5 separate regions of the Homo sapiens genome follow, and all the other regions are linked to region 5. Evidence: fine-mapped expression QTL. A gene starts in region 5. Each other region holds a variant in brackets. All regions are shown on one strand. Distances are from middle to middle.

Evidence for each region. PIP is the estimated chance that this variant, and not a neighbour inherited with it, causes the effect.
Region 1: its variant is fine-mapped to the expression of CTSB in whole blood (INTERVAL, PIP above 0.99).
Region 2: its variant is fine-mapped to the expression of CTSB in cerebellar hemisphere (GTEx, PIP 0.96).
Region 3: its variant is fine-mapped to the expression of CTSB in whole blood (TOPMed, PIP above 0.99). The same link has a PIP of 0.9 or more in blood mononuclear cells.
Region 4: its variant is fine-mapped to the expression of CTSB in whole blood (TOPMed, PIP above 0.99).

Annotation. Positions count from the first base shown.
Region 1 is chr8:11,829,269-11,835,457 of GRCh38, reverse strand. It overlaps FDFT1 (farnesyl-diphosphate farnesyltransferase 1), which reads right to left. Exons shown (of 8, transcript NM_004462.5): 6 at 5,038-5,214; 7 at 3,788-3,940. Among named protein-coding and RNA genes, the nearest start is that of FDFT1, 30 kb to the right of the region's middle. The variant A/C (reference allele first, on the strand shown) is at 3,739.
Region 2 is chr8:12,653,397-12,659,585 of GRCh38, reverse strand. It overlaps LOC729732 (a long non-coding RNA gene), which reads left to right. Exons shown (of 9, transcript NR_047662.2): 2 at 1-456. Among named protein-coding and RNA genes, the nearest start is that of MIR5692A2, 63 kb to the left of the region's middle. RefSeq lists a silencer at 1-101 and an enhancer at 297-949. The variant T/G (reference allele first, on the strand shown) is at 3,383.
Region 3 is chr8:11,885,171-11,891,187 of GRCh38, reverse strand. No RefSeq gene overlaps it. Among named protein-coding and RNA genes, the nearest start is that of CTSB, 20 kb to the right of the region's middle. RefSeq lists a silencer at 1-63. The variant C/T (reference allele first, on the strand shown) is at 2,835.
Region 4 is chr8:11,799,516-11,805,123 of GRCh38, reverse strand. It overlaps FDFT1 (farnesyl-diphosphate farnesyltransferase 1), which reads right to left and starts at 2,383. Exons shown (of 8, transcript NM_004462.5): 1 at 2,193-2,383. The coding sequence starts at 2,291. It overlaps LOC105379243 (a long non-coding RNA gene), which reads left to right and starts at 3,769. Exons shown (of 3, transcript XR_948962.4): 1 at 3,769-3,811. RefSeq lists silencers at 2,005-2,124, 2,335-2,584, 4,762-4,821 and enhancers at 2,655-2,814, 2,852-3,593, 3,594-4,336, 4,466-5,109. The variant A/G (reference allele first, on the strand shown) is at 2,271.
Region 5 is chr8:11,865,470-11,871,658 of GRCh38, reverse strand. CTSB (cathepsin B) reads left to right here and starts at 3,572. Exons shown (of 10, transcript NM_001908.5): 1 at 3,572-3,658. RefSeq lists silencers at 3,419-3,538, 3,679-4,008 and an enhancer at 4,099-4,308.

The sequences.
Region 1 (6,189 bases), 36 kb after region 5:
TGGCAAAACTTTTGAGTCCTTTGATGATCATTTCTAACATATAAGCATGACAGCACAACTGGAAGAGCTGCAGTCACTGGTACTCAGACGTGGACTTACCTAAAACAGAGCCGGTAAGGCCAAAGGGACCTTCTAGATGCTTCGTTGCTAGACCAAACCCCACTCTCCATTTACCTGAAGGCACACAGTAGGTTTCTGCAAACTCAATTATTCAGGTCTTAAAAACCTACTAGCCTCAATCAAGGAGTTACATCTGCTTGTCAAGGACAGGTCATAGCCGACTTTTCATCTACATGCCCGGCATAAAGTTGAAGCCAAATACTTGAGGGGTTTGAGAAAGGGCCTTCACCCTGTTGCCCAGGCTGGAGTGCAGTGGTGCCATCTCAGCTCACTACAACCTCCACCTCCCGAGTTCAAGCGATGCTCATGTCTCAGGCTCCGGAATAGCTGGGATGACAAGTGTGCACCACCACACCTGGCTAAATGTTGTATTTTTAGTAGAGACAGGGTTTTGCCATATTGGCCAGGCTGGTCTCGAACTCCTTACCTCAAGTGATCTGCCTGCCTCAGCCTCCCAAAGTTTTGGGATTACAGGTGTGAGCCACAGTGCGAGGCTTGATGATTAAATGACACAGGCTCCTATAAATGTTTACTAGACTGAAATAAGCTCTTGTGCAATGCTGTGCTACATACAGCAGCTCCTCTGTGAGTCCATGTGGTACTTCCACGTCTCAGCAGTTCTACTTACAACTGCGAATATGGAATCAGCTTGATCATCATTTAAAACTCTTGTCTATGAACATCTAAACTTCCATTAAAGCAAAAACATCATTTGGGAAAAAAAGGCAGATTCTGATTCGATACGTTTGGGTGGGGGCTGGATGTCTTAATGGGCTCCCAGGTGATTCCTGGCAGCTGCTGGCTGGGGACCATCCTTGAGCAGCTAGGCACCTGGGGCTCAAAGAGCCGGATGATTCTCTGACTTAACCACAGGAGGGCACAGGAAGTGTGCAGAGACACGAACAAGATTCTCCCTGCCAAGGAATTCACTTTGGCAGAGAGGGGAATGGGGGTTTCTGGCCGTTTGGCTGAGCATTTATTTCTATCCCAAAATAGCAGGTTGATCTTCTCCCCAGCTGACAAGCATCCAGGCTGGTTTGAAGCAGAGGCTGCTCCAGAGTGGGGTGAGGGCCCTGCAGTGTGGCCAACTGCTCGTGAAGACCTGGGGCTGCACTCCAAGCCCCCACTAAGCACTGGAGAAGCATGAGGAGGTCCTCTGGCAAGTCCCTTCCAGGTGCATGCTCGCTACAACACTAAGTCCAGAGATCGGACAGAGTCAACGTTTCTTCCTTTCTTACTACAAAGGACAGACTTGGTCAGCAAGGAGAAATAGGATCAGTGTTAATATCTGGACACCAGCAAGAGGCCAGACGACTTGTGGCTTCATACAAAATGTTTTCATTTAAAACTTTACTTGTAAAATGTCCTTACTGCTGAAACTAAAACCATTAACAGGTTCTACTGCTTAAGACTTAGAAATCTTCAAAGATTTCCCTAAATCAAATCAACTTAAGTATTAATATTAACATTTCTCCCCTAATGCCTTGAGTTTTACTGGGATAACAGAACAACTGATACCCTAAGTCAGAAGTCAGCAAACCTCTTATTCAAGGGCCAAAAAATATTTTCAGCTTTACAAGTCATCGCCTGTTGCAGCTCCTCAACTCGGCCGTCACATTGCAAAAGCAGCCACAGAAGACAAAGAAGCAAATGGGTGTGGCTGTGTTCTGATAACATTTATTCACAAAAACAGGGCTCAGCCAACTGTAGACTGCCCACCCTCGCCCTCAAACTATGAATTACAACCAGGATTTAATCCCAATAGTTAAGGAAAAACCAAATAAATCTGAATTTTAATATAGTAATGGAATTGGCCACAAAGTGTTTAAAAACTGGTTTCTAAAACTAGTGATCAAACTGCAAAACCAAAACACTCTCAACTACTTACTACATAAAATGTTTCTAGTTTATATAAAATGAATAAATAGTGCTTAATATAGCAGGATTCCATTTAGAAAGGGTAGTTGAACCCCTTAGAATTGGGGTTAACATCATGGATTCTGATGTCAGACAGACCTGGGTTCAAATTATGACCCTAGCCATGAGGCTGGGGCCTCAAGTTTCCCTGAGATTACTCCTACCCACCTACTTGGTCACTACCCCAGGCACATAGATCAAAGTAAGTTCTGGCTACATGGCAAAATGGAGAGTCTCATTGGTAGCAATTTTTTGGGTCACTGGCTGAATATTTTCATCTAGTGACTACAAAATTTTAGGGTTTTTAAAAGCGATGTGGTCTTCCCTTAGACTTCCATAGGTGCCTCTGATAGAAGTTCTGGACATACAGCATTTCTGTGTCAGATAAAGGTAGGGAGGAAGTATAAGAAGAATGTGCAATATGCAAGAGAAATCAGAAATCGCTATTTTGTATAATTCTATTTAGATGAAAACACTGTTGCAAACCATATTCCTGTAAACGCGTAACAGGGGGACTAGACGGATGCACAAAACCATGAACAGAGGTAACCTCTGGGGAGGGAGCTCAGGCAAAGGAAAAATGATGAGGGTCTTGTATGTTTTCATAAAGTCTACAGTGTTTCATTCTCAACAGGATCACACCTGAGGATCACAGCATCATCCTGGGCCTCTACTCACCAGATGCCAGTAGCACCCGATTCCTGCCGGTTAGGACAATCAAAAATGTCTCCAGACATTGTCCAATGTCCTCTGGGGGGAGGGGAGCAAATCACCTCCATTTACAAACCACTGCTCTAGGGCCTAGAGATTATTAGAGATTACAAAGACTTCTGGTCTCTAAGACTTTTTTTTTTTTTTTTTTTTTTTTTGAGACAAAGTCTCACTCTATCACCCAGGCTAGAGTGCAATGATGAAATCACACAGCTTACTGTAGCCTCGACCTCTCAGGCTCATGTGATCCACCTGCCTCAGCCTCCTGAGTAGCTGGGACCACAGGCGTGCACCACCATGACAATTTTTAAATTTTTTGTAGAAATGGGGTCTTGCTATGTCGCCCGGGCTGGTCTTGAATTCCTGGCCTCAAGTGATCCTCCCACCTTGGTCTCCCAAAGTGCTGGGATTTCAGGAGTAAGCTACTGTGCCTGGCCAGAAATAAACTTTTTGAACCTAGTCAAATATTAGAGATTTGACCTAAGAAGGTAAGTTTTCTTTTTATAGGATGGTTTTGGTATTTGAAATGAAATTTTCCAAAGAAAATTTAGGAAATAATTGCAACTTGATGGCTTTCCTTGGCCTAAATTCCCTACTGTGATTTTTCAATTGAGGCCTGTGGCATAATGAAAGTACCAGACTGGGTGTCAGGACACATGGACGGGAGCCAGAGATCCACTCAATCACGCACTGCATCAGCACAGACAAGCTTCAACCTCACATTCCTCACCAGCAACAAGAAGCTTGGTTGGCCTCCTGCATCATCTTGCAGCTCAAAATCTATGATTCTACTGAGGGGCTCCAACCTACAGCCTTGCTCCATTTATCTCCTCTCACCAGGGTACTACACAGCAGTGAGCAATCTGCTCGGCTCCTGTGAATAGACTTTTTTCCTTATAAAGGATATCAATTCCTGTCTCTTTAGGCCACAGGATAGTGAATTGTTAGGATCATCTAATATCCAAACCTGGTTAAACAGTGACATTACTA[A/C]ATCATAAAAGTAGCTACAAATTATCCAAGTAGTTAAATAAAAACCCACCTCTTCCATATACTGATATATGATGGCTTTGACAGCTGGCATATTGGTGGCATCCATCATCAGGGTCACTGCTTGCCCTTTCCGAATCTTCACTGCCCCTTTGAACACCTGCTGGTTATTATAACAGGCAGCCAAAGTGGCAATGGCCATCACCTAGAGACAACAAGAAGAGAGGGAAAAAAGAAGAAATGATGTCGTTAGCTATCATTATCACAAAAAGGTAAGAAAACCTTCTGTTGAATGGGCAATTGCTAACTGCTAATCAACTAAGATGGAATCGCTCAAGAAAAAATACCCACGAAGAAAGTATGTCAAGATTTTTACCTTCCCCACTCCTCCCTTTCTCAACAACACACAGAATTAAGCAGTCTAAAACAATTCTATAATGTAGCCACAAAAGTTCCATTTTATTTGGAAAAAGCAAACACAAGTAAATCCAACATTTTCCATGCTAGAGCAATGGATTATCGGATCGGAAATATGTATTTCAAAATAATATATGGGAAGAATTTTCTATTGTAGTTGTTTTTCTATTTTTCCTACAACAAACATAATCATTATATATTTAAAACCAATGCCAGGGGGAGAACAACCAGAAGGGGATTAATTTCCTGTGCTCAAAGGTAAAGTATTTCTAGGTAAATGGAAACATAAGACGGCGATACAGATTTTACTTTCAACCACCATTCGAAGTTGGTCATTAGAACAAGATCAAACCAAGTTCCCAAATCAGTTAAATGCTGTTACTTTCTTCACTTATTTGCAGTAGTATCTGCAATACTTGGTAAAGGCAACTAAAAAGTGTAAGTTCCTAGCATACTGAGAGGCTAGGTCTACCGGACCAGGTTCTTTTTATGCCGGGTCTAGGAAAAGGACAGCAGTAATTAGGTGCTTAATGAAGACTTTTTAATGATAACAGCTTCACCCAGGTTTTACCCAGCACTCCCCATAAATCTAAGCCAAAGACCTTGACTTAACTGTGAGGAAAAGAACCTAACTAGTTTAGGATAGCTGTAGAAAATAGTAAATCCAGAAAGAAGGTTCTGAAAAGGAGCAGGCTTAACCTCAAGGCTGAGCTGAGTTTGGTGGCTGGAAGCAAAGGCGGGTGCTATGAAACTCCCAGCGTAATAAACTGGAGTCATCGTCTTTTTAAGGAATCATATCCTTGAATATAGCACAGCAAAATCCACCCTTACTCCTACCCCACTCCCTTTAGCCCCGTATCCACCCAGAGGAGCCCCCTTCCCTACCTGTGGAATAGCACAGAAGTTAAACACACTCTGGTTTCTGAGTCTCGAAAGGTAGGTGATGACATCTGGGATGTGGTGCAGTGCATTGGTTATAAGTTCATTCAGGCACTGCACGGCCAAGTCAATATTCTCCGGCTTAGCAAAATCCCCTAACTTCTTAACATACCTGCTCCAAACCTAGACAGATAAGAAGATTAAGGAACAGGTCAGCGTGTGCATAGGGGAGAATTTACAAACAATATTAAAGGGTCTTTGTGCATAAGAACTATGATACAGGCTGGGCGCCGTGGCTCACGCCTGTAATCCCAGCACTTTGGGAGGCCGAGGAGGGTGGATCACGAGGTCAGGAGTTCAAGACCAGCCTGGCCAAGGTGGTGAAACCCTGTGTCTACTAAAAATACAAAAACTAGCCGGGTACGGTGGCAGGCGCCTGTAATCCCAGCTACTCAGGAGGGTGAGACAGAAGAATTGCTTGAACCTAGGGGGCGGAGGTTGCAGTGAGTCAAGATCTCGCCATTGCACTCCAGCCTGGGTGAAAGAGTGAGACTCCGTCACAAAAACAAAAACAAAACAAAACAAAAAAAAACACTATGATATACAGTAAAGTCTCTTAGCTGCAGACTCATCTTTCACGAAGATCAAGTTCATTTTAAGCTCCATGCAATAGCTATTTCTGACTACCAGTAAGTGTCCAGTTGCAACCTGGAAGTGAGTTACGTATTGGGGAGCATGTCCCGAGGGACAACTAGTGCAACACTGCACTACTTGGACGAATTCAGGCTAAAGAGGCTCCTGTTAGAGCTACTGGCCTACTTCTGAAAAAAATAACCCAATATACAAAAACAGTTATAATTGTACTGCAGACTAAACAGTAAACCTTCTCAAGATGGCCAGGCCTCTAAATAATGACTAACATTATATTCCTACTCTGGTAAGAAAGCTGCTGAAAGGCATAGCTGGGAAATGAGCTGAGTCTATCCTCTAAGTGTATTACACCTCCCTGGATCCTGATAACTTGAAAGTGAAATAAAACCTTTAATTCTAACAGTGGGATTCGGCTTGATGATTTTTAATGATATTATTTAGAGGATTCTCTGAAGCTAGCGAAAGTTCTGGAAACATAGTGTTGATGGTTATATAACATCATTAATG
Region 2 (6,189 bases), 790 kb before region 5:
CAGGACAGGTGAGCGCGGCGCAGGCCCGGGCCCGGCGTGTCCGCGCTGCGCGGGAGAGGCCAGCAGAGGGCGCCAGAGAGCCAGGAGCGGCCCGCGGAGGAGCCCGCGCCCGCCCCGATGCCCAGCTCCGCGCCTCGCGGACCCAGCAAGCTCGCGCTCAGACGCCCCAGCTCCGCCGAGAGGACGCTCGCCCCGGGTGCTTCTTTTTCCCCAAGTGCAGGCAGAGCCCCTGGAGCCATGGCCAGCCCTTCCGGCAGCTCCGAAGCCACTGGCAAGCCCCGAGGCAGGGATGGCCGGCCCAGGAGGGAGGAGGACGACGTCCCTCCTGAAGAGAAGAGGCTGCGGCTGTTGCTGGAGGGGGGAAGAGCACAGCCCGAGGACTGCGAGGACGGGGAGGACGCGCTGCGGCCGGGCAAGGAGGACACCGGCACCCAGACAGGTGGCGACGGCAGAGGAGTAAGTGACGCGGGCGCGGGGGTCCGGGGGCGCGGAGGTGCCGGGGACGCGGGGTAGAGGCGGCGGGAGGCTCCGTGGCCGGTTCCGGGTTGAAGTTGGTTACTGAGCGGCAACTCCGGCGGCACGGAGTGACAGCTGGTGACGGCCTCCGAGACGCCAGCTGCCCCTTCTCGGCTGTGTGGCTTCGACTTCCTGATTCTCCCACGACGTCCCTGGCTGGGATACCCGCTGGACTCTGCAGCTGGCCAAAAGGGGAGGGGGAGCCCCGCGTCCTGGGGCCCCCAGCAGGGGAAGGGGCGGGGGTTGCCCTGGGCATCCTGTCTGGGGCATCTGTCTGGGACTCTGTCGGTGCCTCTCACCTGGCGAGGGGCCTGTGGTGGGGGCAGGGGGGAAGTCCCTGGTGCCAGGCTTGGCCAAGCCCTGCTCTGCTGGGCTGCGGGCTGGTGGCGCTCACCCAGCTCGTCACCTGTCCCGCATCTTCCTGTTTTTTTTTTCCCTTTCTAGTTGGGCAGCCAGAGTTGAGAGGAGGCAGATGGCTTCCATCCCAGAAATCGTTCTCTTTCCATCCCTACAGAGAGGGACAGAGAGGCAAAGTTCCTTGCATTCCCTGGGGCGCTGTCCCTATGAGCTCCCGGTGTCCTGCACACGTGGGCCCCTGAGTCACCGGGCCTGTGTGTGTGGGATGGTGCTCCGTGGCCAGCCTGGCCTCCTGGGGTTCACTTTCTGCTTTCCTACCCCAAATCTTCCTGTGTGGCTTTGCTGGCCTTCCACTGGGGAGGCACGTGAGTTTGGAGAGCAGATGAAGGCCAGCTGGAGAGCTGTACCCCTCAGTGACTGCTGCCACCTTGATGGTTTTTGATGGATAATGGGGTTGACCTCTTTGTTCCTTCCACATGTTTTTATGTTTGACCATTTACTTAACTGAGCTTGTCTTAATAATTGGATTCGTGGTTAATGAGCCCCACATGGGAGAGAGGGCGGCCTTCATTCTGAACCCATTTAGGCAGCATGGGCAGCCCTCCTCGCCGTGGGCTGCATCAGAGCCCCACCCTGCCCAGTCTTGGGGTTGCTCCCGGATGCTGCCTGGGAGGCTTTCTCATGGTGACATCCTCATCTCCCTGTGCTCGTTACTGCATTCAGAGCTTGGGTCACCTGGACACTGAACTCAGGTGAATTTTCTCTGAGATCCCAGGAGAAGGAGGACAGTTCTCTGGAAGGTTTTCCAGGGCCAATCACGGACAGGATAAGAAGGGAGAGGTCCTGATCGGGAACACAATTACGGTGGCAGTGTAACGCCGGGAAACTTTATTGCGTGAAGGCCCTCTCACTCCCTCTACCTCCTTCTTTTACGTGGACTCTGCCAAAGACCAGGATACTATAATGCAGTAAGGTGACCAAGCGTAGTGGGACCTTGGGAACACGAGTCTGGAGCCAGGCAGCTGGGGTTTGGATCCTGGTTCTGCCCCTCCTTCGCTGGCTGACATGGCACAAGCCACTTACCCTCTATGAGCCTTACTGTCTTCAGTGGCAAATGGATCGGTCTACAGACCCCAGTGCCTGCGGTTGTTACTGCTGAGATTAAGGGAAACTCGTCCATAGAAGCACTTAGCGTTGTGCCTGGCACATAGTGTATGGCGGATAAATGGGACTCAGGACTGAAACTCATGCCTTAGTGTGTTTTTGCAGTGATGTTTTGTTCTGGGGTGCATCACAAGAGACAAGGTCCTTGGCCGGGCGTGGTGGCTCAAGCCAATAATCCCAGCACTTTGAGAGGGTGAAGGGGGGATCGCTTGAGCCCAGCAGTTTAACACGAGCCAGGGCAACATGGTGAAGCCTCATATCTACCAAAAAACAAAACAAAACAAAACAAAACAAAACAAAACAAAAGCCAAGTATGGTGGTGTGTGCCTGTAGTCCCAAGTACTTTGGAGGCTGAGGTGGGAGGATTGCTAGAGCCTGGAAGGTCGGGCTGCAGTGAGCTGTGATCATGCCACTGCACTCCAGCCTGGGTGACAAAGTGGGATCCTGTTTCAAGGAAAAGACAGAGAGAGAGAGAGAGACAGACAGACCCACAAGAGTCTTAAGCCAGAATCTCCATGTTAAAATGCTTTCTGGAGGCTAAAAGGATGATATGTTGATAATGAAATATTTAAAAGACAGAAACCCCACTGAATTGTTTGGTCCACAGAGGGTAATGGGAATCGCATGACCTGAAGGATGATGGAGGAACTGAATAGAAACCATCCTTGTTTCCTGAATCTGAACATGGCACCCTCTTTTCACGGTGTCTGTATCTGCTCAGTCCAGTGGCCCCTTGAAAAGAGGGAATCTTGATTTTCAAACTTAAAATTTGGCCCAAAGCCCACTGCTGCCCACAATGCCCGCCAGACACATTCCTCTTCCTTTTTAGTTTCTATGGAAATACTCTTTCTGAAGAACCCATGAAGCAGTGTCAGGCTGGTACGAGGATCAGCAGTGATTTCTTTGAGGACAAGAGCCAGTTTCTTCACTCACAGGCCATGTCTGAGTGGATCAAGAAGAACAGAGTGCCCTTTTATGAGATTTTGTCTGCGTAGACCACTAGCTTGGTAAAAATGCCAAAACCATCCTCGTTCTTTAATATCAGATTATTTTGGACTTTTCTCTATAAGAAGCAGCATGGGCATTCAGATGCTTTTAAGGATAAAATGTTCTTTCTCATCACCAGGCCTGGTGCTCTGGATGGCTGAGGTTTTAATGTGACTTGGTGTCCCTTGGAGTGGCTCCCAGGCTGTGCTCTTGTGGTTGGGTGGCAAGGGGTTTCTTTATTCGGTGGTGGCTAGAGGATGTTTTAGCAGATAAATCGGGACCCCAGGAGCCCCTGTGTTGCAAGTCCTGCTGCAGGGCATGTGTTTATAGTGGGGATGTGGGGAGGTGGAGGGTGGGG[T/G]GCATTGATTTCCTGCCAATATCAGAAGTTTCACAGGCTTCTTGTGTATCCACAAACACCGACCCCATTGAGAAGGCCTAGAAAACCTGGCCCTCCCCAAGCCTTTATTGACAACTTGTGAATGATCCCAGGGTGTGTCTGACCCACAGCTCCTCCTGGAGGGAGAGCAAAGTCTCTCCTAGGTATTTGGTTATCAACCTCAACCACTTGCTGAGCCTTCCCCAAGACCAGGCATCTTGTCAGAGATTTCTGGGTTGTCAGGCAGAACCGAGCATTCGAGGATAATAACTCACTGGAGTCCCTGAAATCCTTGATGGACGCACCAGTTGAAAGCATCCAGGGTTGAAACCAGATCAGGAAGGTTATTCTCATCTTGGGGCTCCTGCAGAGGGATTCCTGCAGAGGTGCATCCACGTTGCAGGGATTTTCCTTCTTGCTGAGGAGAAATCTGGGTTTCTCCGCTTTGGCACAGTCACAACATTTGGGGTCAGACCATTCATGGTGGTGGTGGTGGTGGGGAGGCTGTCCTGTGTATTGTAAGATGGTTAGCAGCATCTGTGGTCTCCATCCTCTAGGTACCATTTTACCCTCCCAGTTATGGCTACTCCAGATGTCTCCAGATGGTTTCAAATGCCGTGGAGCAAGGGAGTTGTACGTGAGCCAAACCACTCCAGTTGAGAGCCATTGGTCTACACTTGTGGAAATGTTTGAGGGTGAGAGTGTCAAGCTTGGGTCCCTGCTGTACTCTTTATCAGCAATGCAGTCTTGGAAAATTAATACAACTCCAGGGGCCTCAGGTTTCTCATCTATGAAATGGAGATAAATGAGATACACTTTCATAGGAAGGTTACATGGGATTTACTGAGATAATAAGACAGTACATTGAAAATGCTGGGCATAGCATTTATTTATCTTTATTTTGTTTTTAAGATGGAGTCTTACTCTGTTGCCCAGCCTGGAGTGCAGTGGCATGATCTCCGCTCACTGCAACCTCCACCTCCTGGGCTCAAGTGATTCTCGTGCCTCAGCCTCCCAAGTAGCTGGGAGTACAGTTGCCCACCACCACACCTGGCTAATTTTTGTATTTTTAGTAGAGATGTGGTTTCACCATGTTGGCCAGGCTGGCCTCAATCTCCTGACCTAAGGTGATCCACCCAGCTCGGCCTCCCAAGGTGCTGAGATCACATGTGTGAGCCACCACCCTGGGCTGGGCATAGCATTGTAACACAGACAAATCACAAAATACTTGGGCAATATCTTTCTACATTTGGGTTGTCTAGACTCCATCCTCCATCCCCTCATGTACTGGTGTGGTGCAGAGCAGAATGTCACCCACCTAGACTGCAGAGTGGATTTGGGTGGCATCTTGGCTTTCTGCACAAGACTTGCCTGTTCCCCACCATGTCCCCCTGGTTCTCAGGGTCCAGGATTCCAGGAAGCAGGGATGTGGGCAGGAAGGGCAGGTGGCCCACCCGGTTCACTCCCACGCTGGGGACCTGCAGAGCCAGCTCCCTGAGACAGGGTGTTTGGACCAACATCTGGGTTTCTGGATTTCCATTTGAGCACAGCTGGACTACACAGGCTGAAGCTCTCTCTGCCGAGATATAGATATTTCCCTGGTGATGATCTTTCAAGCTGACATGAAGACATGGCCACCTGCTGGAACGTGTTGTGTCTGCTGTGGCGCTCTTGTAATTTGTGAGGCAGGCTCCTGAGGAATGCAGTGCGTAAGTGGGAAATGGTGGGAAGTTCTAGCATCCTCCCCTGGCCAAAAGTGCTGCCTGCACAGGTTGGTGGATGGTCCTTCGAGCAGGAAGAAGACATGAAACACATTCCTGTTAGCTACGACAGAGAGGGGCAGGGTACACACTGGACATTTCGAGCCCATCCAGAGAAGCAAGTCTTACTATGTTGGGAGTACTTTGGAATGGGGGCTGTGTTGCCCTGGGCTTTAATTATTTCAGGAACATTTAACCCCAGGGTTGGCAGGCTGGATCTTGATATGTGTTTCTCAGTTGGAAAGACTTTGGACCATATGGAGATGTCTTCTCAATTCTTTTAATTTCAGTAAGGTTGTCATTTTTCTTCTTGTGGCCTCTGGAATGTGACACAGAACTCAAGGGACAGGAAGGAGATGATTTGGAGGCTGGGACAGGGGTCCCTGCCAGGGATGCTGGTGACTCACGTGACGGTGTTGATGTGTGGAGTCCGGTGCCTGGTTTGGGGAATGTTCGTGGGATATGTTCCAAAGGACTGACGGACCTATCTGGTACTGGAGGTGAATGGTCAGGTCTGATCTCAGGGCTGTTAGTGTCAGGCAAGGACAGGAAGTTGACGTTGGACTCATTGGCTGAGGTTGCTTGGGACCCAGGGGGCAATGTGTGCCAGGACAGATGGGTCTGGGGCTAGGAAGGCAGATTTGGGCTGGAGACTCGGGCTTGGGAGGCATCCCAGGTAGACAGTGGTTGAGGCTGTGGAAATGACCGCGATTGCCTGGGATGAGAGTGGAGACAGACAAGATGGGGGTTTTGCTTTAAGCCTGGGGAGCCCACCTCCCAGGTTCAAGCGATTCTCCTGCTTCAGCCTCCCAAGTAGCTGGGAATGCACGTGCATGCCACCATGCCTGACTAACTTTTGTATTTTTAGTAGAGATGAGGTTTGGCCAGGCTGGTCTCAAACTTCTGACTTCAAGTGATCGGCCCACCTTGGCCTCCCAAAGTGCTGGGATTACAGGCATGAGCCACCATGCCTGACCATTTTTAAATATTAATTTTTATGAAATATTTTCAAGCACATTTTACTATACA
Region 3 (6,017 bases), 20 kb before region 5:
CCATTTTATGGTCTCTCACAAGACCACACTCAAGGTGTCAGGCAAGGTTGAGTCTTATCGAAAGGCCCAACTGGGGAGAATCTGCTTCCAAGCTCACTTTTTGGTCGTTGACATGACTCAATTGCTTTTAGGCAGTTGAACAAAGGGCCTTGATTCCTAGGTGTTTTTTCCCAGAAGGCACCCTGTGTTTCTTGCCTTGTGGGCCTCCCCAATCAAGCAACTTGCTTTATGAAAGCTTATAAAGGAGAGAGTCTGCCACCAAGACACAAGTCGTCATCTTATATTTACAGAGGTGACATCCTATCATCTTTGCTCTTCTCTGTTTGTTAAAACCAAATCGAAGGTCCTGCCTGCACACAATTGGGGACATTACACAAGGGTGAGAACACCAGGAGTCAGGGACCACAGGGAGCCATCTCAGAGTTCACTCAACACAAAGATATTAATCTTCATTAAGCTCTTTCTGCCCCAGAAAGCAGCCCAGCTTTTGTGGATGTTGTGAGGCCTGTCTCCCAGAAGGGCATTTATTAACCAAACAGTATACAAGATGGTATTAGTCCATTTTTATGCTGCTGATAAAGACATATCAGAGACTGGGCAATTTACAAAAGAAAGAGGTTTATTGGACTTAAAGTTCCACATGGCTGGAGAGGCCTCACAATCATGGTGGAATGTGAAAGTCACATCTCACATGGGGGCAAACAAGCGAAGAGAGAATTTGTGCAGGGAAACTCCCATTTCTAAAGCCACCAGACTTCATGAGACTCATTCACCATCTCAAGAACAGTGCAGGACAGACCTGCCCCCATTATTCAATCACTGCCCACCAGGTTCCTCCCACGACACATGGGAATTCTTGCAGTTACAATTCAAGATGAGATTTGGGTGGAGACACAGCCAAACCATGTGCAGTGGCACAATCGGCCCACTGCAACCTCTGCCATCCAGGTTCAAGCAATTCTCATGCCTCAGCCTCCTGAGTAGCTGGGATTACAGGCATGTGCCAGCACACCTGGCTGATTTTTGTATTTTTAGTAGAGACAAGGTTTCACCATGTTGGCCAGGCTGGTCTTGAACTCCTGACCTCAAGTGATCTGCCCACCTCAGCCTCCCAACATGCTGATGCCTGGCCCGATTTCTTCTTTTTCAATATAATGTGGAATTATCTGATATCTGGATCCAATTTAGTTGTTTATGGAACTGAAACTTCCATTTATTTTGTGGATTATTTCCAAAAACTGATTGGGACTTTGTGTCCGATTTCATTCGTTTCTGTGTGTCATCAAAAGCTGTATTTGTTATGGAGATTAATAATATGTTCTAATTCCCCAGAACTTAGCCATGTCTAACCCTGATATGGACAAGGTTCCATCACCTTTTATAAGACCTTTACAGTAAGTCTTCAATAAATATTTGTTGAATGAATGAGTAAATGACTGAATGGATGGGTGAATGGACACTTTCGCTGGCTTGGGTTTGGGCAGACAGTAGGAAGTGGGGGCCACTGTTTCACCAAAGGAATCACGCTGGAGAAAATCCCTGCATAGCATTGAGTTGTGCAACTATAAATCTATTCCCATAAATTCCAATCAATCCTGTAAACTTCAGAGCAAAAATGCCAGGCTGTGTTAGTTTGCTCAGGCTTCCGTAACAAAATACCACAGGCTGGGCAACTTAACAATAGGCGTTCGTTTTCTCACAGTTTTGGAGGTTAGAAGTCTGAGATCAAGGTGTTGGCATGGCTGGTTTCTCCTCAGGCTATGCCTTCTCCGTGTCCCCACATGTTGTTGGGTTTTTTTTTTTTTCTGTGTATGTGCAGCCTTCATGTCTCTCCCTCCTCCTATAAGGACACCAATCAGATTGAATTAGAGCCCACCCTAACAGCCTCGTTTAACTTAACTACCTCTTTAAAGACCGTGTCTCCAAAGACTGGGTGTGGTGGCTCACAATGTAATCCCAGCACTTTGGGAGGTGGGAGCGAAAAGATTGCTGGAGCCCAGGAGTTTGAGACCAGCAGGGCAACATAGTGAGGCTCTGTCTCTACAAACTGTTTAAAAAAACAGCTGGGTGTGGTGGCGCATGCCTGTAGTCCCAGCTACTCAGGAGGCTGAGGCAGGAGGATCGCTTCAGCCAGGTAGAAGAGGCTACAGTGAGCTATGATCATGCCACTGCACTCCAGCCTGGGCAACACAGCAAGATCCTGTCTCTAAAACAAAACAAAAATCAAAACCTTATCTCCAAATATAGTCACATTCTAAGGTAGTTGGGCTTAGGACGTCACTGTGTGACTTTGAGGGAAGTCACTATTTAGACCATACCACAGACCAGGCCTCGTTTTTGCAGGCCTTCCTGTCCTTGCCTCTCACCATCAGACCCTGTCAGTCCCCAAGTCAGTTGACTGAGGAGCCTTCTATCAGCAGCCCCAGACCATTCTTATGGGGGTGTGAGGGGACAGTGCAGGTCCCTAGAGGATATGTCCATCTTCTTTACTCTGGGGATCAGCCCAGAGTCTGGGGGCCACAGTGGACCCCTCTGAACAGCTGCTCCCCAACCCACACACTCCCACTCCCTTCAATGGGGCACCTCCCTACACGCCCGGCCCTCCTGCACTGCTCCTCAATTCCCATCCCTAACCTTGTCTCCTCACACAACTCCAAACCCTGAACTGCCTCCCAATGGCCCTCAGATTTAGCAGTGGCTGTAGACAGATTCGTGCAGGCACAAACCCTGATAGTAGGAAGCTCCCGAGGTGCCACTCCGCCCGAGCCCACGAGCATAGCGCTCACCCTTCCGGCGGTCCTCCCTCCCTCGTTGCTGTTCCTCCTCTTCCCCTT[C/T]CTGATCCCTCCTTGGATGGCTGACCTTTCAGCTTAAAGTCTCTGGCTCACTCCTGGGACCTGTGGAGAACGTTTTGGTTTGGTTTGGTTTTGGCTGTTCTCGCTACGCTGGTGAACTCTCAGTCCCGTGGAACTGATGCCATCTGTGCACTGATTGATTGCAAATCCATGTCCCCAGCTTGGCTCTCTGTGAACTCCAGACTCAGCTCTGTTCAGTGTCTTGGCTCGAATGTTTAATAAGGCATCTCATTCTTGACATGCCCCAAACTGAGCTCCTGCTCTCCCCCATAAAACTTCCTCCTCTGAAGTCTTCCCCACCCACGTTTATAGCATTCCCATTGTTGCACAACCATCTCCACCATCCATCTCCAGAACTTTCTCATCCCCCAGCTGAAACGCTACACCTATTAAACACTAGCTCCCCCTTCCCCAGCTCTTGACAGCCCCCATTCTACTTCCTGGGCCTGGGCTTTTACTTTGATGGTGTGGGCGCGATTGGTGGCCTTTGAGCAGAGGAGTGTATGATTTGACTTGGGTTTTAAAGAAGCCCTCGGGCGCTGCGTTGAGACTGACATGCCAGGCGTGAGGGAGAAAGCAGGACGCAGGGGGTCATTAGGAGGAGCCCAGAGGCTCAGCCAAAAAAAAAAAAAAAAGAAGCTGGGCGCATTGGGTCATGCCTGTAATCCCAGCACTTTGGGAGGCTGAGGCTGGTGGATCACGAGATCAGGAGATCGAGACCATCCTGGCTAACACGGTGAAACCCCATTTCTACGAAAAGTACAAAAAATTAGCCGGGTGTGGTTGCGGGCGCCTGTAGTCCCAGCTACTCGGGAGGCTGAGGCAGGAGAATGACGTGAACCCGGGAGGTGGAGCTTCCGGTGAGCCAAGATCACGCCACTGCACTCCAGCCTGGGCGACAGAGCGAGACTCCGTCTCAAAAAAAAAAAAACAACTTGGAATCATCCTGCTTCCTCTTTTTCTGTCTTTTTCTCTCATAGCCCACACCCAACCCATGAGGAAATCTCTGCCTTCAGAATATTCTCACTTCTCACACCTCCCTGCAAGCCCCCTGCTCCAAGTCACCCTCTCCCCTAGCCTGGATTCCTGTTTTGTCTTTCATTTGAGCCAACATTTAAAAAGCAGGAAGCTTCATCCAAAAATACGGATTTCTGCTTCTAGCGAATAAAGAAGCAGCCATGGCAACATTCTGCTATCATCCTCTCTTGGCAGGAATCTGCTAGAACTAAGTAGAAGCTACCGTCTTTATTTAAGGCTTACACGTTCCACTTTTCCTCCTCCGTCCTTTAGTTTCTCCGCAACATTGAGGCCACGTGTGAATTACCACTTGTCATTGTCACTGAACTTTTTCTTTTAGAAAAAAGAGAAATAGGGATAGGCGCTTTGAGGGTTCAAGGTGATAGGATCACTTGATACCAGGAGGTCAAGACCAGCCTGGGCAACATAGGGAGCCCCTGTCTCTACAAAATAATAATAACTAATTAATTAATTAATTTAGCTAGGTGTGGTGACACACACCTGTGGTCCCAGCTACTTGGGAGGCTGAGGCAGGAGGATTGCTTGAGCCTAGGAGTTTGAGGCTGCAGTGAACCATGATTGTGCCACTGCACTCCAACCTGAGCAACAGAGTGAGACCTTGTCTCAAAAAAATAAAAAATAAAAATGCTGGATGCGGCAGCTCACACCTGTAACCTCAGCATTTTTGGGAGGCTGAGGTGGGAGGATCACGTGAGTCCAGAAGTTTAAGACCAGCCTAGGCAACATAGCAAGACCCCATCTCTTAAAAAAAAAGAATTAGCTGGGATCTTCAGTTGTCACATAGGTGGAAAAAAAAAGAAAAAAATTAAAATAAAAAATTAGGTAGGCGTGGTGGTGCATGCTTGTGGTTCCAGCTACTTAGGAGGCTGAGGTGGGAGAATCAGTTGAGCCCGGGAGATTGAGGCTGCAGCGAGCCGTGATTGCACCACTGCACTCCAGCGTGGATGACACAGCAAGATCCTTTCTCGAAACAACAGCAACAAAAACCCTGAATTGCCAACCCGGGGAGCCTCTGATGGACTCCGCCCTGACCAGGACTGTAATGAGCTGTGGACGGGGCTCATGGGCTATTGCGTTCCATAGTGCAATTCACCTCACCATTTATGTGAGTGGCACCCCCTAAGGTTATGCCATGGGCAGTCACACAGCCATCCAGTGCATCCTGGAGACAGAGGAAAAGTCAAGTGTGGTCTGGGCCCAGGACCAGGACAGCAGGGTGGGCAGGCATGGCCAACAGAAGGAGCCCTCTAAGCTTCACTGGGAAAATGAACAGAAGGGAGGAAGGAAGGCATGGGGCTGGTTGTGGGGTCAGACTCTGCTTCCGTGACCCTCAAAGCAGAGATGGCAAAGCAAACCTCCAGGGCCTCCAAAGGCCTCACGAGTCCTGGCTGTGGAGCGGGGGCTTGCAGGAGGCTGCAGGCTCAGGAGCACCCAGGACATCAGTGGCCTCTGCAGACCAGCCTCGTCTGAATGCTTCCATCACAGTAACGCAGAAGTTTCTGGACACCAAGAGACAGAGGCCAGGCAACATGTTTTCACAGTCTCATTAGTCCCTGTCCAAAGTAGTGCCATGCAATATGGGGCAGTCCCACACCGAAGGGGCCTCTTCACTGCCCGCCTGTCCAGGGTCCTTACCGCCATTGACGGGTCACCTGGACCCTGCAGCCACACTCTGGAAGAGCCTCTGCAGAGAGGCTTCAAGCCCCTTTTCTTTCTTCCCCTGCTGCAGAGAAGGGGCTCACGAAGGCATCCTGTCAAGCTTCTCTTGCCTTACTTAGAATAATGACGGGCTAGGTTTTTGTTTTTCAACTGTCAAATCAAAACAGAAAAAAAGCAAATGTAGATTGTAGACCCAGGGGACTTTTGCAAGGGATCCTTCTGGCATGAAACTTTCTCCTTTCTCTGCCTGGCATATTTTCTGGTAAAGGGGAACACACATCTTGGGGAGGTATCTCGAGAGTCGATAATAGTTATGGTTCAGTTCCGTCTGCTTCCCAGAGAATTCTAACTGTATTGCATAGTGAGTGCCAAGACCTCTTGAGGCCAGTGGGGGATTGCCTGAGGGGCTCCCATAACTCATCCATGGACTCATTTAGCAGGAAGGAGCTGAGGGAGGAGGCAGGCAGG
Region 4 (5,608 bases), 66 kb after region 5:
GCAATGCAGCGAGACATTGTGTCTACAAAAAAATTTAAAAATTAGCCATGCATTGGTGACACGTGCCTGGAGTCCCAGCTACTCGGGATCAGGAAGCCGAGGTGGGAGGATGGCTTCAGCCAAGGAAGTCAAAACTGGAGTGAGTCATGTTCAGGCCACAGCATTCTAGCCTGGACGATGGAGTGAGACCCCCCCCTCAAAAAAAAAAAAAAAAAGGCCGGGTGCAGTGGCTCACGCCTGTAATCCTAGCACTTTGGGAGACCAAGGCGAGCAGATCACTTGAGGTCAAGAGTTCAAAACCAGCCTCACCAACATGGTGAAACCCCGTCTCTACTAAAAATACCAAAAAATCAGCCGGGCGTAGTGGCAGGTGCCTGTAATCCCAGCTACTCAGCAGGCTGAGGCAGGAGAATTGCTTGAACCCAGGAGGCGGAGGCTGCATCTAGCTGAGGTCCCGCCACCACTGCACTCCAGCCTGGGTAACAGAGCAAGACTCCATCTCAAAAAAAAAAAAAAAAAAAAAGAGAAACTAAGATAATGTTAAGTGAAGGGAAATGTATTTTTCCAATTTATTTCCCCTAATTAAAGGTTCAGGTATTTTTTTAACGGCTCATGGGGATGTAAAAACTGCCCAGAAAGACTACAACTAACATAACAAATACTGCACCATATTATCAGAGCTAGAATAGCTCAAGTCTCGCTTTTAAAAAAACTCAAAATGTACAAAAACAGTATACTGTGAAGTCTTTCTCTACCCACTTACCATGACCACCCACTTTCCCTCCCAACAGGAAACCAATGCTACCATTTTCTCTAACAGTCTTTCTGTAGAAAGGAAAGAGACATAGAGGAATGAAGTCTGGACCCAAATGAGGTCTGACTGCACTCAGATCCCTTGCCCTGCTAGTATCTTCCTCTGCAGTGCTTTTCTCCACGTGAAAAACTGTACATTCGCTTTCTTAAATTGTCTCTCTTCCACTAAAAAGTAAGTTTTATAAAATCAAGGTCTTCACCTAGCTTGTTCACTGTTGTACCTCCAGCACCTAGAACACTATCTGATATACAACTGGTCGTCAAATATTTGTTAAATAAATGAATGCTATATCTAAATATAAAAAGTGACATCTGCCATATCAAATAATAGAAGTTATTCTGTAGCAAAATAATTCAAATAATGTAGCACCGGCAAAGAAAAGATGAAGAAAACTGAATGTTCTACAAATAGACTGAAGGATGTACCTGTATTAAAGATAGCACGTGAAAAATAACACCAAATGAGGGTGTAGTCTACTGGGGACAAAAACCAGAAATTTATTTTCTAGTGTGTTTACTGAAGCACATGGACACTGAAAGAAAGACTCCGATGTTCAGGCACCTATCAAGCCTCGGCCTGAGTCACATTTGCTACTGTCCTGTTGGCCCAAAAAAGTTACAGAAATCAGCCAGGCTGGTCCAGACCAGAAGAACTTGGCTGAATTTGTCTATTCATTCAATAATCGCGTACGAATAATTTTCTTGTTGGAATAAAAACACCTCCTATGCATTCATTAAACAAATAGTACAGGCATGAGGCAGATAAAAATCTAAGTAAAACCAAGTTCTGACCTTCCACCAACCACCTAGCTAATCCATAGACGTTAGATAACTCATTGGAACTTGGAAGCGTAGATAGGCGATTTTAAAACTCAGGAAGCACCGAGGATGAAGCGATGGAAGGCAGCAAGGCGGGGAGAGCTCCGGAAGAGGTGGTGAAACTGGAGGAGTCAGACTTCATTCCAGAAACGGCCTTCATGTGATGTTATCTGCATAGTTCATTCCGCTTACCAAAAAACTCACTCGTCCTCTCCCGCGTAACCCACCCACATTGCCTCAGATGTGTAACCCTCGGGTTAAAATACCGGTAAGCGCCGATGCTCACGGAGGGGACGAAACGGGGAGCGCAACCACCGGGAACCACGCAAAAGTCGCTCATGCCCAGGGCGGCTTGCGGGGGCAGGGACAGGTCAGCCAGGACGGCCGCGTCCACCCGGGCCCTACAGGGGGAAGGCTCGAGGAAAGGGGGACGGGAACACCCAGGCGTCGGCCCTGCTCGCCGCGCCCCTTGCCCCAGATCCGGGCCCGGCCGCTCAGGCCCTGAGGCCGGCCCAGCGAGCTCCTTCCCCGCCCCGGGCAAGCAGGGAGGCTCGGCCCACCTGGTCCATCTTGGGCATCACCTTCCGCTTGCCCCCGATCCGGAAGCGCACCAGGTTGTAGAACTCTTCGGGGTGGCC[A/G]AGGCATTTCACGAACTCCATCCTGGCGCAGGCGGCGGACTCCCGGGCGCGACTCTCACCTCTGCGGTCCCCAGGCGCTCACCGGCCGGCTGGACCTGTGGAGTAGGTGCTTCGAGGGGCTGGCCGGACAGGGGGCAGGCCTAGTACGGCGACGCCCCGCCCGCCGCTCCGCCCACTTCAACCGGCCTCGGCCGCCAGCGGGGCTAGCTGCGGCCTCGTGGGGTGGGCTGACGGGCGCTGATTGGCCAGGGCCGCTCACACTAGGAAGACCCCGGCCAATCAGTCGCGGAAGGAGACTGGCGTGATAACACTCTAGAAGCTCATTGGAGGCCGAGAAAGAGGCCGACGAGCGGGATTGGTGCCCTGATGGAGCCGGGCCTTTGTTTTCTTCCGCTTACCCCGGCTGGGAGCGCGAACGCTGTGGGGACTGGAGGTGAGGCGGTGGGGCTTAGGATGCGCAGGAGCCCAACGGTGGTCCGCAGTCGGGAGAGCAGTGCGGGGCTGCTTCCTCCCCACTTGGTCAATAAGTCGCCCACGTGTCCGGCCTCGGTGGCTCCTGCCAGCCGGGTGAGCTCTGCAGCCGCTCTCTGTAGAGCCTAAAACCGTGAAAAGGCCGGGCCAGCGCCAAGCTGGGCGTCTTTACTGTAACACACCCGAGCACAGCCCAGCTCGCCTGCCCGCCACCGCCATCCAGCCCCAGGGAGCCCCACACACTCCTGGAGCTTCAGCTGCCCCCTCTCTAGTGTTTACTTGAGATCCAGCTTAGTCCTAGAAAAAGGAGCTGAAGCCTTAGAGAGCCTGTAACAGGAATGTGGAAACTTCTCTCATCCTAGATCTCTCCAGCCCTAGAAACTACTGGCTACCCGTCCAGGCGTGGTGGCTCACGCCTGTAATCGCAACACTTTGGGAGGCCAAGGCGGGTGGATCACGAGGTCAAGAGATCGAGACCATCCTGGCCAACATGGTGAAACCCGTCTCTACTAAAAATACAAAAAAGCCGAGTGTGGTGGTGGGCGCCTGTAGTCCCAACTACTCCGGAGGCTGAGGCAGGAGAATCACTTGAACCCGGGAAGCGGAGTTTGCAGTGAGCCAAGATGACACCGCTGCACTCCAGCCAGGCCAACAGAGCAAGACTACGTCTCCAAAAAAAAAAAAAAACCTACTGGCTACCTAAGCCATCCTGCAGTCTGTTTTAACACAGCAACCAGTAATCCTTTTAAAACCTGTCAGGTCTAGCCGAGCGCGGTGGCTCATGCCTGTAATCCCAGCACTTTGGGAGGCCAAGGCGGGCGGATCACCTGAGGTCTGGAGTTCAAGACCAGCCTGGCCAACATGCTGAAACTGCGTCTCTACTAAAAATACAAAAATTAGCCAGGCATGGTGGCAGGCGCCTATAATCCCAGCTACCTGGGAGGCTGAGGCAGGAGAATCGCTTGAACACAGGAGGCAGAGGTTGCAGTGAGCTGAGATCGCGCTATTGCACTCCAGCCTGGGGGACAAGAGCGAGACTTCATCTCAAAAACAAACAGGAAACCTGTCAGGTACGTTCACTGCCCAAAGCTGTTCAGTGTCTCTCCAACAAAAGCCAAAGCACCTATAGGGATCCTGAGAGGCTGCAGCCTTCCACCCAGATTACCTCTCTGGCCTCCATCTCTTATGCTTTTGCTTTCTCTGGCCCTAGGACTTTTTGTCTAGCTGTTCACTATTCCTGCACTATCCCCCAGATACTGGCTTGACTAACTCCTGTGCCCCTCGAGTCTGCTCACACCTCATCTAGACCCACCTGTTTGCCCTCTCTCACATTTCCACCACTGCTAATCCCAGTGGGGGTCTACTTGCCTATATTTACCATATTCTAATACATCATTTACTTATGTATTAGATTACAGAGTGTTTCCCCTACTACTGTAAACTAAAAATCCTAAGTCCCTACCACTGGACAGCCCTCCCACTCCCCACCTCGGCCAAGGGAACCCCAGAAAAATCTTAAAAACTTAGTTTCCAGCCATGACGGTATAAAAAGTAAAGTAGAGGTTCCTCTTCAAAGACTTTCCTCCCCATTTAATTAGGAATAAATAGTAACTTCTCTTAGAAGCAAACTTTATTCAAAGACCTGTGCTAACATTCTTAAATATCTGCTAGCTATGATAAAGAAATCAATGTACTTCATGTTCTTAGCTCTCACAATTTAGCCTAAATATTTGCCCTGGCATGCTTATAGTGGTCCAAGAAAGCATTAGGTCATAGCCTGTTCCTCTTCCTTATTTGAAGGTGTTTCAACCTTTGTCACCATTCCACAAGTTACTTCCTCCTTCCTTTGTTCTCCTCTACCTTTGCCTCTTTTAAAAACTTCTAAGTTGCTAGCCAATCGGGACAAATACAGAACGTGAGGCACCGTTCCAGCCAATGGAAACTAGACACAAGCAGTGGGGTGGACGAGTCAGGTTATAAATGACCCTGTCTCCTTTGTTTGGTATACTCCCATGGCAAAACTGCTGGCGAGTGTACCCTTTCTGCAGGAAGTAAAAATGGCCTGCTTAGTAAATTAATGTTCAAGCGCCTTTTTTTTTTTTTTTTTTTTTTTTTTTTTTTTGAGACAGAATTTCACTCTTGTTGCCAGGCTGGAGTGCAGTGGCACAGTCTCGGTTCACTGCCACCTCTGCCTTCTGGGTTCAAGTGCTTCTCCTGCCTCAGCCTCCCGAGTAGCTGGGATTACAGGCGCCCAACCACCACGCCTGGGTAATTTTTCGATTTTTAGTAGAGACAGGGTTTCACCATGTTGGCCAGACTGGTCTTGAACTCCTGACCTCATGATCCACCCTCCTCGGCCTCCCAAAGTGCTAGGATTACAGGCAAGCCACTGCGCCCAGCCTTCGAGTGCTATTTCTTCTTCATTTTTTTTTTTTTTTTAAATGGAGTCTCACTCTGTCGTGAGGCTGGAGTGCAGTGGCGCGATCTTGGTTCACTGCAACCTCTGGCTCCCAGGTTCAAGTGAGTCTCCTGCCTTAGCCTCCCGAGTAGCTGGAACTACAGGCATGTACCACCACGGCCAGCTAATTTTTTTATTTTTAGTTGAGACAGGGTTTCACCATGTTGGTTAGGATGGTCTCAATCTCTTGACCTCGTGATCCGCCCGCCTCAGCCTCCCCAGGTACTGGGATTACAGGCGTGAGCCACGGCTCCCAGCCTACAAGTGCTATTTCTTTCCAGCACCAGGGAAAAAGCATTTCAAATAACGGGACAGGAGATCAGATAGCCCTCATTGTACCCCCTTCCTTTTGGAGTTCATACACAACTGGCTGGCATTAACATTAAAACAGAGATCATAAGACTAACGG
Region 5 (6,189 bases):
GCACCACTGCACTCCAGCCTGGGCGACAGAGCGAGACTCTGTCTCGGCAAAAAAAAAAAATTCATATTAGCCCCCAGAGAAACCCCACACCCTTTAGCTGTCACCTACCTAACCTCCCATGTGGATTTCACGGAATCATACAATACTGAGTCCTTTGGACCTGGCTGATTTTACTTAGTAAACGTTTTCAAGGTTTATCGATGTTGTAGCATGTGTGACTACTTCATTCCTTTTTACGACTGAATAAAACTCCATTTGGTGGATTTATGACAGTTTGTTTATTCGTGCAATGGTTTTTAATGGATGGACATTTGAGTTGTTTTCACCTTTTGGTTACTGTAAATAATGCTGCTATAAACATCTGGTGTAAGTTTATACATACGTTATTAACTTTTGTTTTAGAGTTGGGGTCTCACTATGTTCCCCAGGCTGGTCTTGAACTCCTAGGCTTAAGTAATCCACCCACCTCTGCCTCCCAAAGTGCTGGGATTACAGGCGTGAGCCCACTGTGCCCGGCGGATTTTTGTGAGGACGTATGTTTTCACCTCTTTCAGGTGTTAACTTAGGCCTCTTTTACGGATGTTCAACAAGCAAACAGCTTTTACACACGTGAGTCAAGGCCTCTCTGTAAGTTCTGAGAGCTGTTCCCCAGGCCCTGAACCCTGACCCCCAAATCTAGCAGGTTAAGCCAAAATTCTCCTCAACTTCAAGGCCTACTTCATTCATTATGCATCCACTCAACTCACATTTCTCTATCCTCTGCTATGGGCCAGACACCCTGCAATGAGCTGGGATGAAGCAGGGGAACACCGCAGGTAAAAATGCTTGCCTGGGTGGGGCTTAAGATCCAGTGAGGGCAGGAAGGAACATATACAAGTAAATATGCTGTATGTTCCTTTCTCCATGAAGCTTTCCTGGATGTTCCAGGAAGGGACGAATTCTACTCTGGTAGTAATATATTTCTTTTCTTGTCTTTTGAGGAGTCTTGCCCATGTTGGAGTGCAATGGCGTGATCTCGGCTCACTACAACCTCTGACTCCCTGGTTCAAGGGATCCTCCTGCCTCAGCGCTCGAGTAGCTGGGATTACAGGCCCGCAATGCCACACCCAGCTAATTTTTGTATTTTTAGTAGAGACGGGGTTTCACCATGTTGGCCAGGCTGGTCTTGAACTTCCAACGTCGTGATCCGCCTGCCTTGGCCTCCCAAAGTGCTGGGATTACAGGCGTGAGCCACTGCGCCTGGCCTATTTCTTTTTTTCTTTTCTTTTCTTTTGAGATGGAATCTTGCCCGGGTTGGAGTGCAATGGCGTGATTTTGGCTCACCGCAACCTCCACCTCCCGGGCTCAAGCGATTCTCCTGCCTCAGCCTCTCAAGTAGCTGGGATTACAGGCGCGTGAACCACCACGCCCAGCTAATTTTTGTATTTTTAGTAGAGACTGGGTTTCACCATTTGGGCCAGGCTGGTCTGGAACTCCCGACCTCAGGTGATCTGCCTGCCTCAGCCTCCCAAAGTGCTAGGATTACAGTGGTGAACCACCGCGCCTAGCCTGTTTCTTTTGTTTCAAAAGTGATTTTTACCTCTCAAAAGTGATTTCTATAATGACACTGATGGAAAATTCCATCAAATAGCCATAACGCATGTCAAGCACTCTGCTCTGCATACCTTCTGTCACACTCTAAGGATGAGAGAGGGGAGAGTTATCCTGGTTCTGGCTGTGTCCTCCCCATTTTGGCCATCTTATGAGCTCCTTATAGAGGTCTGAAATGATTTGGAGTCCAGAGTCCATGGCTGTCAGGATATGACTAGGGTGAGCAGGCAGTTGGGACCACCTTGACCTCCAGCCTCCTGGTCCTCAGTTCCTCGGGTATCCCACTCTGCTGGGGGCTTAGTGACCATGTTTGGGCTCCAGAGATTATTTTTTCCTTCCACTCCTATCCTTAGTTTGTTACTAACCAGGCGGGAGTACAGGCATGTCTCTGAAGACAGGCTCAGGGCTGTGTGACAGCTGACGACCAGGCTGCAGGGAACCAGGTCCCATGCAGTCCTACTGCCTTTTTTTTTTTTTTTTTTTTTTTTTTTGAGGCGGAGTCTCGCTTTTCGCCCAGGCTGGAGTGCAGTGGCACGATCTCAGCTCACGGGTTCACGCCATTCTCCTGCCTCCGCCTCCCGAGTAGCTGGGACTACAGGCGCCCGCCACCACGCCCGGCTAATTTTTTGTATTTTTACTAGAGACGGGGTTTCACCGTGTTAGCCAGGATAATCTTGATCTCCTGACCTCGTGATCCGCCCGCCTCGGCCTCCCAAAGTGCTGGGATTACAGGCGTGAGCCACTGCACCCGGCTACTGCCTTCTTACTGTCGCCACAGCCTGGATAAAATACGATTCTTCTGAGCCTTTTTTTTTTTTTTAATACAGAGTTTCACTCTTGTTGCCTAGGCTGGAGTGCAATAGTGCGATCTCTGGTCACCGCAACCTCCGCCTCCCGGGTTCAAGCGATTCTCCTGCTTCAGTCTCCCGAGTAGCTGGGATTACTGACACGCGCCACCACGCCCGGCTAGTTTTGTATTTTTAGTAGAGACGGGGTTTCTCCATGTTGGTCAGGATGGTCTCGAACTCCCGACCTCAGGTGACTCACCGGCCTCGGCCTCCCAAAATGCTGGGATTACAGGCGTGAGCCACCGAACCCAGCCCCTCTGAGCCTCTTGAATACAACTGGGGTCATGCCTGCTTTGCAGGTTTGTCTTAAGGATTAAAGCTGTTTGGGGAGTGTCTGGAGGAGGGTGAGTCTTGAGCCAACCCCTGCATCTCCCTTCCAGGGCCTCCCGGTAATAAACCCCAAGTAAATGTGCACTTTGTCCGTCCTCTCGGAGCAGGTCTCCGGGTACTCCTGTGCCAAACCGATTTCCGCCCCCAAGGTCCTTCTCCTCTTAGAAATCCTGACGCAGCTCCTAGGTTCCTTCGCAGTGACAGCCACTCTTTTCTATTTGTACGTAGCTGTAGTGTTTTGTGGGTACGTTCTCTGAACAACAAAGTGGCCCTTCTAAAGGCTGTTCTGTGGGGTCCACAGCCTCGCCACCCCCAGCCTCTGCAGCGGCTTCTGAATGAATGAAATAAGCGACGGCGCCCTCTCCACCACCCCACCCCCGCCAACTCGGCAGGCAGGGATCCCAGGCGCGGGTTCTGGCGGAGGCGGTCCCGCGAGGCGGGGGGACTTTTCTAGGCGGGGTGGGGGCCTTGGGACCACCTTTAGGGGCTTTTTCCCCATCCCCTGGCCCCAATTCGCAGCGTTTCGCCACCCAGGGCCCGCAGGGCTCCAAGCCCTTCTTCCCCAGCCCGCGCGCTCAGGCCCCCGCCCGCCCCCGGCGGTGGCCCCGGACCCCGAGCGGAAGGGGGCGGGGGGTGTGCGGGGCCGGGAAGCGGGGAGCGCGGGCGGCGGAAGGTGGCGGGAGGGGGTGGGGGCTGGGAAGCACCGTGCGCGGGCGGCGGGAGGGCCCGGGCGGGGCTGCGCGGTGGTCACGTGGGGCGGGGCCGGGAGGGTACTTAGGGCCGGGGCTGGCCCAGGCTACGGCGGCTGCAGGGCTCCGGCAACCGCTCCGGCAACGCCAACCGCTCCGCTGCGCGCAGGCTGGGCTGCAGGCTCTCGGCTGCAGCGCTGGGTGAGTGCTGGGGACCCGGGGCCACCGCAGCGTAAGTGACCTTGGCGGGGACGGTGCTACCCGGCCGCCGAGACGGGTTCCTCTGCGCCCTCAGTCGGGCCCAGGCGCGGCCCCGCGGCGTCCCTGGGGGCCGGCGGGGAGCCGGGACCCTCGGGACTGTCCCTGACGGGCGGGCTGGGGTGGGAGTCCGCGCGCTCCGAAGCGTCGGCGAGAAAAGCAGAAAACAGCTCCGCCCGCCAGCCCTCTGCCCTCCGCTCCCCTCCCCGGGCTGTGCGCCGGACCCCGGCCCTCGGAGCGGGGACGCGGCCAGGACCGCCGAGGGAGGCGCCTGCGAGGAAGAGCTCGGCCGGGTCCGGAGACTGCTGCCTGGGACCGCGCTCCCAGCGCCTGGGCCTCGGTGTCTCCGGGCCAAACTGCCGACATAATCGCATCTGCCGGCATCTATTTTCGGTTTATTTCCCCCTCATTGCGAAGGATTTGCCTGGCCAACTTTCTGCGCAAGATCCCACGCAATTCCTGGGACCCCAGAAGACAGGTCCTGTTGAAGAACAGGAATCTGGCACTGGGTGGGCTGGGGAGGAAGCCGCACGGTGTTAAATCCATAAACAGGAAGAGAAACCAGACAGCGAAACCAAGAGGCGAATGGGCGATTGGATGCCGGTGGGGAGAAGGCCGGGGGCGCACCCTGCTCCTGGACTCCAGTAAAGGGAGGCCGGGCAGAGTCCCTGGGGCGCCACCTCCCCCTCGGTTAGTAGCCCTGGAGGCCGGGGGGAGTTGGCCTCTGGGGAGCAGTGGGTGCTGGGTGTGGGGCGTTGCAGGCAGGCTGGGGTGGGCGACCCAGGTGGAAGTGAATTGCACTTGGCTTCCTGGTGGGCCTCTGTCACCCCCTTCCCAGGCGCTGAGAAAGCCAGCAGGCTGGCAAAGAAAAGGACCCTAGCGCAGGCCCCACACTCCTCCTCCTAACGGACGAGAGACCCCCCAAACCCACTGGAGAAGTGACGCTGTGGGGTTCAAATGCAGACCTGGCACCTTTTTGTAGCCTGGAAAAACATTCCCACTGCCTGCTGCCGGAGGAGAGGATAGCTGAGATGCACTCTCTTTGAATCCAAACGTTCAGGAACGTAAGGCGAAGAGGCCTAAGAGGGCGTTGGCTGGCTCTGTCTCTCAGGCTGGAGCACAGTGGCGCGATCTCGGCTCACTACAACTTCCGCCTCCCAAATTCAAGCTATTCTCCTGCCTCAGCCTCCCGAGTAGCTGGGATTACAGGTGCCCGCCACCACGCCCAGCTAATTTTTGTATTTTTAGTAGAGATGGGGTTTCACCATGTTGACCAGGCAGATCTTGACCTCCTGACCTCAGGTGATCCGCCTGTCTCGGCCTCCCGGTGAGTCACGGTGCCTGGCCAAGAACTGTTTCTTGTTGGCTCTGGTGCTGGTGACTTAGAACCCGCCAGCTCCTGGAGAAAGGGGCTGGGCCGCCCACCCTGTGTAGCTTTCCCAAAGACAGAGTCAAACGTCTCCTGGAGAACAGAGGCTTCCCTTCGTCTTTGGTCATTTGTCCTCTAGCTGGGGGTACCCCCTGGTGGAAAGGCACAGGTCCCTTGCTCCCCAGGTGGCAACGCAGGCCAGACACGGCCCTGGCACAGCTCTCCTGGGTGTTGGCTCAGGACAGCCCTGTTTCCAACTGGTTAGGCGGTGAGGGGTGGTGGCCCTTTGGTTCCAGGTTGAAACTGCCCATGTGGTGCTGATTTAGCAGACTGGGGAGGCTCTTTTTGTAGGCAGGTTCTTTTCTTTCCCCAGCTGCTGGACCTGGGAGTTGGAAGAGAAGTTGCACCCATTTTAGGGGTAACAGATATTTTCTGTTGCTCTTGGTTGGATTGGGAAGTGAATTGAAGGGAGGTCACGTTTCAGGGGTGCCTTGGGATGTCTGTCAGTGATTTTCTTTTCTTTCTTAATTTCTTTTTCTTTCTTTTTTTTTTTTTTTTGAGACACACTCCCTCTATCGCTCAGGCTGGAGTGCAGTGGTGCGATCTCGGTTCACTGCCACCTCCGCCTCTCATGTTGAAGCAATTCTCCTGTCTCAGCCTCCCTCCCAAGTAGCTGGGATTGCCAGTGCCCATCACCACACCTGGCTTTTTTTTTTTTTTTTGTATTTTTAGTAGAGACGGGCTTTCACCATGTTAGCCAGGCTGGTTTTCGAACTCCTGATCTCAAGTGATCCGCCTCAGCCTCCCAAAGTGGTAGGATTACAGGCATGAGCCACCGCGCGGTGGAGGGGTAATTTTCTTAAATCTGGTAATGAGTTGTGGTTGTGTAGAGTAACATACCGTCCTTTCGAGATATGGACTGAAACATTGAGAGGGAGGAGTTACAGGTATGTCGATTCTTCTTTTCTCTCTCTCCTTTTTTTTTTTGAGGTGGAGTCTGACTCTCTCACCCAGGCTGGAGTGCAGTGGCAAGATCTCAGCTCACTGCAACTCCGCTTCCTGTGTTCAAGCCATTCTCCTGCCTCAGTCTCTCAACTAGCTGCGA